2 separate regions of the Homo sapiens genome follow, and region 2 is reported to be linked to region 1. Evidence: microRNA targets listed by miRTarBase, many of them from high-throughput screens and not tested one by one. Region 1 holds a microRNA gene; the other region holds the end of a gene's coding sequence.
Evidence for each region. The annotated mature microRNA hsa-miR-3660 reads ACUGACAGGAGAGCAUUUUGA and lies in region 1 at 2,684-2,704, shown strand. An mRNA with a match to its seed (bases 2 to 7 or 8) in the 3' UTR can be bound and repressed. Matches are read on the target gene's strand: a 7mer-m8 pairs with bases 2 to 8, a 7mer-A1 pairs with bases 2 to 7 and ends in A, and an 8mer does both.

Region 1 (6,398 bases):
AGATTTTAAATGATTACAAGTCATATAATTATCAGAAAATTATTTAATCTCTCCATTCCTCAGGTTCCTCTGTGAAACAGAAATAATCATGGTACCTATCTCATAGGTTCATTATGAGTTTGATGTACGTAAAATTTGTACATACTGCCCAACATAAAATACTAATGTATTTTGTCAACAAATACATTATACTTGTCTATGTATTAGACAAATTATATATTGTTCCACTTATATTCTTTTACTTTAGACTCCATATATTTGGTAGCAAAAAAAATTCCAAATGGTTTAAATTAATGTTAAGAACTTTCACATATTAAAAATAATCTTAAATATAGATGTCCAAAATGGTAAAACAGACCTCATTAAATTATTACGTTTCATCACAATATTTACAGTGCTGCCTAGGTCACGTTCTTTCTCTCCCTTAAGTCTCCAAACTTCTAGCAGCATTGTCAATTGGCTCCTCATTGTGGTTCTTGCAACACTTTCAAACAGAAAAATGGTGCTAAGTTTTCAGATGCTTCCACTAAACTTTAGTGGGAGATGATAGGGCAGCCCATTTAGATTTTGTGGAGCCTAAAGATCATGCAATTGTGGAAGTGTTTTTAATGGAAAATAATAACTATGAATTTAAAAACTGCTAGCATCCCTGCTAGGTTCTTGCAAGGGAGTCATTTAGGGGAAGAGCCCTAAATTTACATTAGCTTCTAGGTAAATCACCTACTGCTTCTTGGCATGCCCCACCACTCTTTTCAGCGTATCTTTCACAGAGTATGTTCTCAATACACATTTGTTGATGTGAATAGGAGTTAGAGAATTATTATAGATGCCACACTATTGTACATAGACAAAAGTGTTAGTCACAGTTCCCAGTGATCCCCATATTGCAGTAATGTGGAAATATAAATTTGACAGCATGTTAAATATAAAGGATAAAATCAACCCGTGATTTTTCTTCAGACACCCATTATAGCCCCTTGATGTAGAGACTACAAAGAGAATACACCTGGCTCTAACAAAACTTACTTCATTCTGGCTAGCCTTACAATTTGAGATGTTCCGACACTAGGTTCTCTTTTTATGTTCTTACTCTCTAAAATTTTTCTAGTGGAAATGGAGAAGTTGGTTGTCATTTCATTGCTACAATTAAAATTGATCACAGATTTTAATCATGATTACCATTTTGATGGTTAAAGAAAAGCGACTTGGTCATCTCAATAAGAAATACTTTTCAAACTCTTTTATGTTCAGTTTGAGACACCTGAAGATTAAGAGTCTATCAGAACATTCCCAGCCAGTTTGAGCCCTGTCACTAAATACTAACAACAACAAAAAAAAAGTAACAAAAAAAAAAGTTTCCTGTATTATGAAATCCAGAGAGGTAAAGTCTTATTGTAGGTCTTGATTGCCAAAAAAAAAAAAAAAAAAAAAAAAAAAAAACAACCAGCAAAAATGTGAGGGAAATAATACTTTCTGGTGTGCTAAAAGTGACTATGAAGATCAAACTCCTTTAAAATCAAGGAGGGTCTGTGTTTGTGTCAGTCAGCTGCTGTTTTCCTCATTGGAAAAGATTCTTACTTTGAAAACTTAGGTTTCACCAAGCTATTCTGCTACAGTCACCACGGCTTTAATGATTGCCCTTTCCTCAAGTCTATTCTTGTTTACTCCTCAACAGAAAGAACTTTAGATTAGTGTATGTATCTCCATCTTTTCGTGGCTACTGAACCTCCTTTTCTCCTGAACACCTTGTTGAGAACAATTTAAGAGTCTGGCTTTATACTTCCTCTGCAATAAAGAACAAAATGTTCCCGGCATGATAATTCTACTTGGGAATGGATAAGTTCTCATATGCTTAAATTCTGAAAGGTACGTGAGATGGTCTGTTCTAAATGACAGGTTGCCATGGTTACATCCTTCTGTGGCTCACATGGGGATAGGGCCAATTATCAAGTTTTGTTTGGTTGATTTTAAGTAGTTTGTTACCTGGATACTCAACAAATAAGAAAACTGGGGGGAAAAAAGACTTGTTTTCTTCTTCCCTAGAAAGGAAGCAGTCATTGTTGGGGGGAAAGCCCTTAAATTCCAAACAACATGGTAAATTATTTAGTTCAGATAGAGTTTCTAAATTGTTGACTTTATTTCGGGACTAGCATAAGGCCTGTGAACTAAGATAGCTTTAAATGCTATGAATTGGATTTTTTGTTAGCTCTGTTGATCCTATAATATTTGTGTTAAGTAATTCATTCCCCTCCTCTTTTCCAGATTTGTCTGGTGCTTTTCAAATGCGTGTGTGTGTGTGTGTGTGTGTGTATTTTAAGTTAGTCCTTTTGTGAGTTTTGCTGCTCGGCCTCATTCCTCCCTCCCATGGTGGAAGTAAGATTGTTAATTAATGATATTCCAGAGGCAATTTCTGGAGTGACTATTGGAAAACCCTTCTTAATTAACAAAATGATAAATTCCCCACTGCAGCAGTGCTGCAAGTGAAGTTCATCTGTGTCATTCAAAATCTATGATTTTAAAACATTCTCTGACATTTTTTTGAGGATATTGGGCATTTAAAGTCTGGATCTTTTATCAAAGTTTCCGTAGCCAGCTGGAGAAGGAGAAATGCAGAGTGAAAAGGAGAAAGAAGAACTGGACAAAATTAAAATGCTCTTCTGTCATTGTAATAGTTCATATGGGCACTGACAGGAGAGCATTTTGACTTTGTCAAGTGTGTCTGCTACTCATTTATTCCATCTCCTGCTTGTTACCGAAGTTTCAGATTAAATGTAAAGATATGAATGTATTGCCATAATAAATTTATAAGTGGATATTTAAAGAGCAAAGATTTGAATGACACAAATGAACCTCGGTATAGCAGTAAAGTGGACAGGATTTGCAGAAAGATGCCACAGAGTCAGAAATGACTGCTGGAATCGCCTTAATTAAAAAAAAAAAAAAAAAAAAAAACTAAAAAAACTTGAGCTTCATAAGCCGCCATAGAAGGTGTCTAATGTGAAATTAGGCTTACTTTACATTATTTATGCCACTTTAAAACGATGTAATAAAAGCTTTCAAAAATCTGATTAAGCTGTATTATTCAAATACAAGGCACTTACTTAAGCAATGGAAAAGCTAAGCTGTTAAATTTGGGGGCAGGGAGTAAGATTCTAGACAAAGTTAAAGCAGCATGTTTTTAAAAATGTATGGTTTCTTTTTAAGATATCTAGAAAATACAATTAACTTTTTGAAATCATATTTAGTTGAGTGAATAGTAATCCCAATGTAGTAAACTGTAGAGATAACACTTTCTAAGGATGCCTTATCTTACTTCCCACAAGAGGCTTAGGGTTCCTTTAAATGTCATGGGAAAACTGCATAACCTAAGATACTCCTGTAGGGTTTGCATAACACTGGTATGCATAATAAGAAAGAAAGCAATGTGAGGGGGCACCCAGCTTCTATGACCTGATGTGTGGTGAGGACCCAGAGCACAGGGCTGAGAAGAAGCAATGGGGAGTTAAAATGAGGACATGGGGATAAATTATTTGACATGATCCTGAGCAGACCTGACTTTTGTAATGACACTCAAACAGCAGATAACCCTGAAGGCAATCTGAAAAAGAAGAATACAGTGGTCACACTAGCAGATAGGAAAGAGATGAGTAAGCTTTTCTGAATTGTCTGAATCACTACTGAAAAGCACGTCCTTCGACTGTGAACACCACTTCTCTTTTCTTCTCATGTCTGCTGCCCTTCGGCTAATACAGTGTAAGAATTCATTTTGTTTATCTGCTCCAACACAGAATAACTCCAGTGAGGATAAAGTTATAAGGATTGTAAGGAAGAGGGAAAGAAAAATGTATACAAAAATAACCATGGAAGTTTCAGAATAATAGCATGAGAAGAAAAAATTTGTTTAGGTTGGTTTTCTGATATTATCCAAATAAATATTACTTTCAAAATCATAATATCTGCCTTGAGCTTAAATGGAGAGAAAGGAAATGGAAAAGTTCCTTACTGAATCTGAGATCTAGTGTTTTGTTTACACTTGAATATAGGTAGTAAATCTTAGGAGCAGTTCAGTTAGAATAATCATTTTAAAATTACTTATGGGACTAAAAAGCTTATGCTTTTAGCAGACCCATTCAGTAAATTGGGGTGAGAGGAGAAAATGGGGCTCTTTAGCAAATGACCAACATCTACAGATTTTGCCTAATAAGACATTTCTATGGGGCAGATGCCTTATCAAACTTTCAAACAATTAAACTTGGTTTTATTATAAAGTCAAGCTGATAGTAAATGTCTTTACTTTTTAAAGTAGATTTTATTGGTTATATAACTACTCACACAAACTGGGAAAAATCATTTTAATGTATGGCACAGATCTTAGATAAATGATATATGAGATAGAATTTCCAGATTCTAGGTATAGGGTACGGTCACAATTTATAAATTGCAAATGAAGGGTATAGTCTGTAAGTAACTAATCTAATCTTTCTCATGACCTCTATGTCACTGAATACTGTGCAGGGAGGGGTGGTGGGATGAAAACTTGACAATTAATGGTCTCCCAGTCTCTTCATATTTTAGACAATTTCTCTTGAAAAAAGAAGAGATTCTTTGGGTTTCCTTTCACCTCCAGATAGCATCTGGGTAGATTGGTGGCAATGAGGATAGTGCTGCTAGTCCCAGCTGGCCTCCTTGGTTGTCATGAAGGCAACCACTACTGAGATTCATGGTCCCAGTTATTTGCATGCAAGTACACTAAAAACTCACCACAATTTCTTAGTCCTGACCCCAGGCCTCTGCTATTTCACCAGTCTTCTCAGTACCTTGAACCCTTACTGAGGCATGCAAAAACTTCTAAGCCCCTCCACATAGGCCTTGGGGACTGGGATCACAGCCTCTGGCTCCTGTCTCTAGCCACCTCCCTGTAACAGCACTGAGCTACCCACCTCCTTCCCTTCCTTCCTCTCCTGCAAGACTATTCCTAGATGTTTGCAATGACTCTCAGGCTTTGGAGAAAGAAGACCTTTGCTATTATGTTCCCAAATTTCCTCATAGATATTTAGAGTTTCTGTAGGCCCCTGCCTCAAGTTTGGCCCCTTTTGCTGCACCTCTGACTCTCGTCTTGATCCTTATTCCATTAGGGCCAAGAGGGGGAGGGCTGTCTACTTTCTCTTTCTATATGGAAGCACTTAACCTAAGCTATGCACTCCTTTTCAGTTTCACTGAATTTTTCCTGCTTCATTTAACTCAAAATGCAGTCATCAAATCTTTATAATCCCATCAAGTCCCTGTGAACTCAACCCCCACCACGTCTCTGATTTTACCTTCTACTAGTTTTCCTGTTTTTTATTTCACTCCAGGTACATAGACTTCCCTATTTTTCCTTGAAAATGCCAAAGGTGCTCCAACCTCGGGAACTTTCATTTATTTTTTCTCTCTGTCTGGAATTCACATATGCCATACATTAACATGGCTTGTTTCCTCATTTTTAATTTCCTCATCTCTTTTATATAACCTCTTGTCATAGACCCCTTTTGTGCTCACCTTAAGTGAAGTGGAAATTTTCCTTCCCTCCACCATGTCCAGCTCTCTATTTCCTTATGCTTCTTTGGTATATCTTCATGGTACCATTCATCTCAATATCATGTATTTACTGTACATATATTTTTATCATCAGTATTTTCCTATCTGAATGTAAACTCTGTAAGACTGGGATTCTGTTTTACTGAATAGGATAGCCCTAGTACTTAGAATAGTATCCAGCACATAGTGATGAATACACACACAGGCATATGTGAATTCAGCATGCATCCATACATATATTTGTCATGAGTGGGTGAATAAATGTTAGATGATATGCAGAAAGATAAAATGGATCACTAGAAGAAAACATGCATGGGGAGATATCTCCAAAAAGAATTTCCAGCACAGAGATTACTTATATTTCATATGTTAATGTTAGCATTTTTTTCATTTCTATATATTTTTAAAGATATGTTTTTGAATTATTTGAAAATTACTTAAGTTACCAATGAATGCAGTGGGAAAAAATATCTGAAAAGTCGATTGTGTGTATAAATATGACTCCTGGCTAATTCATTATTATTATTATTTTGCTTTTCAATCAGTTATTTCAGAAAAAAGTTCTGAGAGAAAATGTATATGAGAAAACTAGGCCCACTTCAAAAGTATTTTATATTTATAAAAATAGTTTAATTCAATTTACATGAATTGTTGGATACTAATTATATTTTAGGCAATGCTTTAGGATCTGGCAAAACAAAATAATTGTCACATATTCCATTTATAAATATTATAGGTTCATTTTTATTGTTTTATATTTTCCAAGACTCTTTTTTATATATTACTCATTTGGTTCTCATAGCTATTTCTGAAGTAGGTTG
Region 2 (3,000 bases), not on the chromosome of region 1:
ATGCCACTCCCCATGAGAGGAACCACAGCCAACACACTAAAGCTGCCTGCTCAGTTTCTTTCCCGGGGAAGAAAATGGCCCAAGTCTTCCTGGAGGATCAGGGTGAGGGTATTAATGGTTGGGGAGACATGAAGAGTCTGAATGCCTCCCAAGTAACTCAGCCTCCACCTAGCCTCCAGCGTGGGGGCTGAGGACAGGCTGCACTCAGCCCCTCTCTTCATTAGTGCAGGGACGGGCCTCAAAGCGCTCTGGAGACTCCACAGCTACAGGGCTATGGTTGCAGCTGCTGCCGCACGTACCTCCACGCTGGGAAAAGGGGACGGGCCCCTGGAAAAGGAAGGAATAAATCTCGAAAGGGAGAAGAAGGAGGCACAGAGAGAGATCAAGGGAAGGGGGTACACAGAGATCTCAGACCTGGCGGCAGAAGGGAGAGCAGGGGACACAGGAGAGGGGACTCGGTGGGGGAGGGGAGGCGGGAAAGGGGGCGGGGGCCAGGGCTTGGCGCGCCGGGAGGGCCCCTCGCACCCTCTCCCCTTCCCACCCGCGGGCGGCGCTCCCTCGCGGGTGCTCACCACCGGTGATCCGCTGCAGCCCCAGCACGTCCTCCGGCCCGATCGGCTGCTTCCTCTGCAGCGGCCCCGGCCTGGGCCCTGGGCCTGCGTCCGGCTCCGACTCGGACCCAGATTCGGATTCCGCAGGCGGCTGTGGTATGGGGGCCACGCTCTGGCCCGAGGGCCCCGGAGCGGACTCCGTCGCCGTCCCGGCCCCACCGCCGCCCTTCTTCACCTTCATGGCCTTGCGGGGCCGAGGCTCGCCTGCTGCTGCCGCCGCTGCCTGCGCCGGCTGGAGCCGGGGGAAGTGGGAGCATCCGCAGCCCCGCCCCCGGCCGGGGCCCCAGGTACTGCCCCGCCCCGGCCCCGCCCCTGGGGTGGGCCCTGCGCTGATCCCGCCCGCCGCCCGGCCCAACCCTCCCGAAATGCGACGGGCGCGGGGGATGGGAGTCGGGGTATCCTGCCCTGGGCTTCATTCTGTTTTTCTAACACTTTCTTGTACTGGTACTAGTGGGGTCCTGACTACCTCTCCGCTTACTCATTGTGTTCCAGCCTTTCTGCCCGTGAGTTCCAGGCTCAGGGTCTCTGCTTGGATGGTCTTCCCCAGATGGCCTCTTTTCTCCTAGTCACAGCTCAAATGTCATCTGCTCAAAGGGCCTCCCTCACACCCAGTCTGAAGTCCTTCCCCCTCAGTCACCATCTGACCAGCCTGTTTTTGTCTTTCTAATGCATTATGTGAAATTATTTTTATTTGTCCGCTGACTCTTCCCCCTGAAAGCTCAGCTCTGTGAAAGCACTGGTCCTGCCTACTTTGTTCTCTGTAGGACCCCTGTACCTAGCAGAAGGCTCCCTGCAGCTGGTGCTCAAGACTTTTTTTTTTTTTTTTTTTTTTTTTTTGACCTGATGAATTAGTATCTCAGGTAAAAAGCAGATGCTAACAGCCTTGGGCAATCCAGCTAGGAAGGGCACATGGCCACGTGGAAGCAAAGTGGACCTGTGGGCACAGGAGGACAAACACCAGGAAACTGTTACTTACGCGTGAATGCAGAAAGAGTAGAGCTCAGACTTTGTATCATTCCAATTCATATTCAGCCAGTGTTTATTAAGAGCCTACTACACGCCAGACACTTTACATGCTGATCACATTTACTCCTCACAACCATCTTGTAAGGGAGACATCATCAGTGCCATTTGAACAAATGAAAAACTGAGGCTCAGAGAGATTCAATACCTTATCCAAAGCTCTCCAGACAATAAGTGCAAAAACAAGGATTTGAATTCAGGACTGTTTGATTCCAAATCTGGAACTTTCTGGAACCTCTGACACACACACACACACACACACACACACACACACACAGCACCATGTCCTGAGCTGCTGCCTCCTGGACTCCCGCCAGACTGCACCTGACAGACAAAGCCAACTAGGAGGGAGGGGAGTGAGGGAGAAGGTCCCACAGGTGACCAATGCCTGGCCCCTTCATGACAGCAGGGGCTAGGGCTGTCCCACAGGGACTAGAGAGAGGTGTGGAAGGCAGGGACTTTCCCATAATGCTCCCTCCTCTCAGTGCACAAGTGTGCTATGTTGAGAAATGGGGCAAAAGAACAAACAGTCCTTGCCACAGAGGGAGACAGGCAGCAGCCTTATCAAACAAGATAAGGAGACCCGGATGATGTGCCTTTTGAGGCCCCTGGTGGTGGAGGAGGATTGAGCCAGGTGAATGGGAAAGGAAGAAAAGATGAACCCATCTTGGAGTGTTGTACTTTGGTTGCTGGAGAGCCAACAGTGGAGACTGGAGACAAATATTTAAGTCATTCCGGCAGGCCCCATGTACGTGCCTCACAATCTAACACCGCCCACCTTGGCCAGAAAGGAAGGCTTCCTATGGAGGTGCTGCCCTGCTCAGTCTGTCTTCTCAGGCTTTCTCCAGGACTTGCGGGTCTCCAGGAAGATCTTGACCAGGGACAGGAGGATGGGCACAGCCATAGGCAGGAAGAGTGGGATGTAGATGGCAAACTTCTGGTCATCAGGGAAATAAAGGAGGTGGAGGAGTGACGGGTCAAAGAAGGCAAGCTCAGAGGATGTCACAGCTTCCTGGCTGGCGACAAAGGCAGATGCCAGGTGCCCAGACGCCAACTCTTCTGCCGACTTCTGGACGGCAGCTACAGCCTTGTACACCTAGGAAGGAGAAGGGACAAGAGGGTATACCAGTAAGTCCTAGGCATTGGTGGAAAGGGTGCTGGGCCTTACTGTGCCTTCCATCTACCAAGGAAGATGCCTGGAGTTCATCCAGGATCTATGGAAGTCTTTCTACAGGGATATGGTTTATTTTCCTAGGGTCAGCTTGAAACCTCGCACTCTCATCTGCACTCCTGCTTGGGGGCTGGTACTGCCGTCTAGAGGAAGGCTGGGACACTAAAGATGGCAAGCCCACACATACCATGGACC

Region 2: the mRNA of PIGS is a reported target of hsa-miR-3660. Seed matches in the 3' UTR shown: 7mer-m8 at 1,959-1,965 and 7mer-A1 at 1,871-1,877.

Annotation. Positions count from the first base shown.
Region 1 is chr5:90,012,947-90,019,344 of GRCh38, reverse strand. It overlaps MIR3660 (microRNA 3660), which reads left to right and starts at 2,625; the gene lies at 2,625-2,724. RefSeq lists an enhancer at 4,585-4,634.
Region 2 is chr17:28,551,766-28,554,765 of GRCh38, forward strand. PIGS (phosphatidylinositol glycan anchor biosynthesis class S) reads right to left here. Exons shown (of 12, transcript NM_033198.4): 12 at 1,622-2,730. The coding sequence ends at 2,455. It overlaps UNC119 (unc-119 lipid binding chaperone), which reads right to left and starts at 859. Exons shown (of 5, transcript NM_005148.4): 1 at 573-859. The coding sequence starts at 792. RefSeq lists silencers at 476-525, 586-1,035.